Linked DNA regions of Homo sapiens: region 2 is linked to region 1. The links come from fine-mapping of genetic effects on gene expression. A gene starts in region 1. The other region holds a variant in brackets. All regions are shown on one strand. Distances are from middle to middle. Region 1 holds the start of LARGE1 (LARGE xylosyl- and glucuronyltransferase 1). Region 2 overlaps LINC01643 (long intergenic non-protein coding RNA 1643).

The links.
Region 2: its variant is fine-mapped to the expression of LARGE1 in nasal epithelium (TOPMed, PIP 0.99).

Annotation. Positions count from the first base shown.
Region 1 is chr22:33,919,206-33,922,106 of GRCh38, forward strand. LARGE1 (LARGE xylosyl- and glucuronyltransferase 1) reads right to left here and starts at 1,271. Exons shown (of 15, transcript NM_133642.5): 1 at 790-1,271. It overlaps LARGE1-AS1 (LARGE1 antisense RNA 1), which reads left to right and starts at 2,020. Exons shown (of 2, transcript XR_001755630.2): 1 at 2,020-2,318. RefSeq lists silencers at 799-898, 1,169-1,318, 1,639-2,138.
Region 2 is chr22:34,097,901-34,100,801 of GRCh38, forward strand. The region is part of intron 2 of LINC01643 (long intergenic non-protein coding RNA 1643); the gene reads left to right. Among named protein-coding and RNA genes, the nearest start is that of LINC01643, 82 kb to the left of the region's middle. The variant G/A (reference allele first, on the strand shown) is at 1,561.

The DNA of each region.
Region 1 (2,901 bases):
AATCAGATTGTTCTGGGGGAAGCTCACAGGTTTAATAAATTTCAAACAGGCAAGGACAGGCTTGTACAACTGAGGTTCCTTAAGAGGAACATTTAAAAGAGGATAAGGCAATGAACAAAATAACTTGAGGATACACAAACTTTGGAGTCCTCACTCCAAAACTTCAAAAGCAGTGACATTTACAAGAATGTCTGGATAGCTATACACTGATCACTCCTCACAAGCAGCTTTGACTAACAGGAAGGACATGCTGGCTGGGCTTCCCCCCTACAGATAGCAATGCCAACCAACCACTCTGTCCTAAAGAGGGACTCGCAAGCTGTGGCTGCTCGCCCCCAAATTGCGCAGGACTGTCTGCAAGAAGGAACAAGAAAAGTTATTCACAGCATCACACCACGAAAGGTAGTTGCGTACCGCCCAACAGGGCCCTCTCCAAACACGGCAGGCTCCGCGAACCACAGGTGCTCACCGCTAACAAGAGGGCCGGGGGTGCGGGTATCGGTCACATGCCCTCGTGGTGTTAACCAGAAACTCCTCCTGGCTCGCTCCCTGCCAGCAGCCTGTGTGCCCAGAAGCCGAGCAGGCCCTGAGGGGGTCCTGGGGACTTCGGAGACTGGGGGCTTCCACCTCCAGCCTCTCCAGGGCTCCCGGCCGGGGCAGCAGAGGGTGTGCCCGGCCTCCCCGCCGGCATCCCGAGTACAGGGGGTACCAGCCACAGGTTCGGAGAACTTGTCCGGCGCTACACACCACGGCGCCCCCGCGGCGACTCTCGCGCTCCGGGGCTCTTACCTTGGCCGTGACTGCCGCCAGGCAGAGGGAGACACGGAAGAACAGGGTGGCGCGGCGGCGCCGCCGCCTACGAGGCGCAGGGGGTCCGGGTCAGGGTCCCGGCAGGCGCTGCCCTACTCGGAGCGGCGGTGCCAAGCACAGAGTTCGGGACTGCCCCCGGCTCCAAATGCCGCGGCGAGGGTCCGGGTCCCCCAAGCTGAGCACTGTCCCTTCTTCCTCTTCCTCCGGGGCCGCTGCCTGGAGCTGCTCCCGGCCCGGGGGACTCTTCCGAGCCAGGGGCGCCCCGCATGGGCAGGGGCCTGGGTCAGCCTCGGGTTGGGTCCAGGGAGCGACCGCCGGGGCCGACTCCACCTCCCGCGCTCCAAGCCGATTCGTCCCTTCAGGGCAGGGCCTGCCCGCGAACAGCCCGGCGAGACGAGCGCGGCCGCGCCCCCAGCTTCGGGCGCCCGGGCTCCGGCGCGGCGGCGGGGCAGGAGCAGACTGGCCGGGCCGGGCGCCGAACGCGGCGGCGCGGGGGGGGCTGCAACCGGCCGCGGCGCGCTCTCCCCCAGGGCCTGCGCCGCCCGCCCGCGGCTCCGCGGGAAAGAAGCGCCGGAAAAGGCCTCGCCCCGGCCTGGGGCGCGGGGCCGGGGGCGCGGGGCTAGGGGAGGCGCCCCGGGAAGGTCACGGGAGCGGAGGCGCGGCGAGTGGATCGCGGCGCGGTGGGTGCGGGGAGCCGAGGCGGGCGGCCCCCGCCGCCGGGAGCGCTCGCCGGCCTTGGCCGCCGCCGCCGCCTCCGAGATGCGCCGGCTTCCCGGAGCGCCCGGCGCTCGGAGCTGGGCGGCCGCTGCAGCCGCCGCGGGCAGCCGGGCGCCGCTGGCCGGAGCCGGCGCGCGATCCCCGCCTCCCGCGCCCGGCCAGGAGTGGGCCGCCGCGCGGGAACCGGCAGGGGCGGGCGCTGGGGTCCGGGCTCCGGGCTGGCCCCGCCGCCTCCGCGTGCCCAGAGCGCCGGACTCGCTCAGCAGCTGCAGTGACTGTGTGTCTGTGTCATGTCTGTGCAGCCGGGGGGGACCGCGAGCCGGGGCTGGGTTCCGAGCGGGGGCGGGGCCGGCGCCCGCGTCGGCGCCCGCCCCCGACCCCGTGACCGAGCGGCCGGCCAATGGCAAGCGCCGCAGCCGCGCGGACCGAGAGTTCGCCCCCGCACAGGCTCCGCCCCCCGGCGAGACTCCGCCCCGGTGCTTCTTCAGCTCGCTGGCTGGCAGGCAGGCGGAAGCAACACCCGGAGCCGGGATCCCGGGCCGGGTCGGGATGAAAGGGTGCAAGCTGGGAGCTCCCCGCCCTTCTTCCCCCAACCCCGGCGGCTCCCGGCCGCCTCGGGCTTGGCGTGCCTCGCGGAAAAAGGGGGAAGGGAAGCGGGACGGGCCCGCAGCTGCCGTGGTAGAGAGGCTCGCAGGCTTGCAGGACCATGCAGCCTGCTCCCCAAATTGCACAAAACAGCCGTCGTGAGAAGTAGGAAGTTTCCCCGCCTCGGGTCGCAGCTTCTCTCGGAGGTGGGCATGCTGTGGGGCAGCCGGAGTCTGTGAGGAGCCCCGCCGAAGGGCTCTGACGGCATCTTTCTGGGATCGGTATCCAAGAATCCTGTCCAAGGCTTCCTCTTCCTCTGAGGAAACTACATTTCTTTTTCCTCCACCCCAAACACACACCCCATGCACGCACAACACGCCCCTCCCCTGCTGATTTTATTCTCGCTCTTTCCCTCTTGGCATAAGAACCCGGCGCGCAACATCCCTTGAATGGACTTCCAGCCTCCCAGTTCTAGGGACCAGGGTGGGGGTACGGAGAGTCCTCCCGAGCCACAGGAGAAGTGGGTGAAATGGGTCGGGGCACAGGAGCGGGGGTGTGAGAATGGATGGAAGGAGGATGCCCTCGAGAGAAGACCCAGAGGAGGCGAAAGCAGAGAGGCAGGGAGAGAAAGAGGACGCCGAGAGCTGCACAACTCGGACTCGGAGACCGGAGCTCCGGGCGCGCGATCCAGCTCCCGGGTTTTTCCGCAGCTCGGTCCCAGGGCTTCTGGGGTCCCCTTCCCCCCGGGTCTCCACCTCTCCCCAGCCGGGCGGGCCGCCGGGTCTTTGC
Region 2 (2,901 bases), 180 kb after region 1:
AGCTTTGGACTTACTGCATTTGAGGGGTTTGCAGTATATCAAGGTGGAGTTGACAATTAGACCTTTACATTTGAGTCTGGAGCCTAAGAGAGAGTTTAGAGATAAAGGCCTGGGATTGGTTGGCGTTTAGGTTACCACTGAAATTCCAGGCACGATTGAGTTCTCCAGGGGGAGTATGATGAGAATAAAAGAAAAGAAAATATAAAGGGGCTAAGATAGGTGGACACAAAGAATCTAAGTTTATGAGTCTATCTCCCCATAATTGGAAACACTACTCATAAGAACCATTCTTCCGAAAGAAATTGGCACAGTTAAATGGGACCAAAAGAGACCACGCCCTTTTAGGGAGTCCCGTTAGACTACAAACTCCTTGAGGTCAGCCAGCACATCTGCCTCAGTGCATAGCCCAGTGTTTGGCACATAAGCATCCCTCCTCTGTGTTATGAATGAATGAGGATTCATTGTAGTTGGCATACAGAAGACCAAGAGACACCTGAAGGCTGTCCTGAAAGGTTTGAAGAGCCAAGTGGACACCACAAGGTCTCACTGGTTTGAAAGTTCACAATTATGGCGTGGACATTATAAAAAAAGTCAATTTCAGCTGTTACATCAAAGAAGAGCTTTCTGAAAAATGAAGGATTGAGGACCGGGCGCGGTGGCTCACACCTGTAATCCCAGCACTTTGGGAGGCCGAGGTGGGTGGATTGCCTGAGGTCAGGAGTTTGAGAGCAGCCTGACCAATATGGTGAAACCCAGTCTCTACTAAAAATACAAAAATTAGCCAGGTGTGGTGGCATGTGCCTGCAGTCCCAGCTATTCAGGAGGCTGAGGCAGGAGAATTGCTTGAACCTGAGAGGCAGAGGTTGCAGTGAGCTGGAGTCGTGCCACTGCACTCCAGCCTGGGCAACAAAGAGACACTTCATCTCAAAAATAAATAAATAAATAAATAAATAAATAAATAAATAAATAAAGGATTGAACAGTGAGTCATGAGTTTTATGTCCCCAGAGGCCATTAAGCCTGAGGCTGGGGTGGTCTTCAGGGATGCTGGAGAAAGGATTCCCTATTGCCTGAGGGTTGGAGGTAAACCCCTCTGAGATCCTTTCTGCCCTGAATTGAGACCTAACTTGCAGGATTAATGGAAAAAACTTGTTTATTAGAATGAAGTTCATCAACATTCAAATACCAGGTTGGTGGCTTTTTAGCTGTGTAATCTTGGACAAATTATTCACTCTTCCTGAGTTCCAAGTCTTCATTAATACCATGGGCTTATGATGCCTATAGTAAAGGTTAGGATTAGGGTTTGCTACTTATCATAGAAAAGCTCAGATACCACTGACTTGAATGAAATAGAAATGCGGTTTTTATTTCTCCCAGAAATGTAGTGTGTAGGTAGGGATTCTAGGGCTAGTGTGCAAGTTTCTTTTATTTTTCTGCCCCACCATCCTCATGTTCATCCATCCTCATGTTCACCTCAAGATTCAAGCTACCTTTAAGGACCATCCCTACCCCCACCTCCACATTCTAGGTTGCAGGAACTGTGTGGGTGGGGTGGGGGAAA[G/A]GACAAATATAGGCTAGTTTTCCTGCTGAACCAGTTTCCTTCTGCTTTTATCTAATTGGCCACAGCTTAGTCTCATGGCCACAACTGACTGCCAGGGAGTCCGAGAAATGTTCTCTTTGCTCCTCCTTCCCCAAGCAATTATGACTCTATCACTAAAAAAGAAGGTAGAATGGATACATGAAAAATAAAGTAGAGGTTCCTCTTCAAAGACTTTCCTCCCAGTCTAATTAGGAATAAATAGCAACTTCTCTTAAAAGCAAAATTTATTCAAAGACCTGTGCTAATATTCTTAAATATCTGCTAGCCATAATAAAGAAATCGATGTGCTTTATGTTCTTAGCTCCCACAATTTAGCCTAAATATTTGCCCTGGCATGCTTATACTAGTCCAAGCAAGCATTAAGTCATAGCCTGTTCCTCTTCCTTATCTGAAGGTGTTTTTACCTTTCTCAGCATTCCACAAGTTACTTCCTCCTTCCTTTGTTCTCCCCTGCCTTTGCCTCTTTTAAAAAGTTCTAAGTTGCTAGCCAATCAAGGCAAATACAGAATGTGAGGTCCCATTCCAGCCAGTAGAAACCGGACACAGCAGTAAGGTGGAAGCGTCAGGTTATAAATGACCCTGTCTCCTTTGTTCAGTGTACTCTCATGGCAAAACTGCTGGTGAGTGTACCCTTTCTGCAGAAAGTATAAAAATAGCTTTGCTGAGATTTATGTTCAAGTGCTATTTCTTTACAGCACTGAAGAACAAGCGTTTCAAACAGATATCACGGCACAATTGCCACTGTCTGCTCTTCCCCCTGGCAGAGTTCCATGTGGGTGAAAGAGATAATCCAGTATATATCAAATGCCTGAGCATAGTAGATGCTAACTAAATTGTCATTCTATTCTTATTCTACAGTAATTTGCAAGCAGATGGAACTTCAATATGGCAATAGAGAAAGAATCAATTAGACCAGAGTCTCCTCAGGAAGACTTTCTATAGGTAAGATAGAAAAAAGAATTGTAGTTTCCATTAATTGGCAATAGTAGGAAGAGTATTACAGAATAGGGGAAAATAGGAGGATAATTGTAATGCCCATTTGCTGAGGTTATGTGCCAGCCACTGTGCTTAGTACTTGGCCAGTGTTGTTCTCATTGAATTCTCATAACCACCTTACGAGATAAATACTATATTTGACCCTGTTTTACAAAGGAAGAAAATGAGGCTTTGAGCAGTTCACTGACTTGCCTGTGTTCAGGTAACTACTAAATGTTCAATCCAGAATTCATACTCAAAGATGTCAGGTTTTGAAGCCTGTAGTTCTAACCATGAGGCTGTATTACCACCACCATTCATTAATTC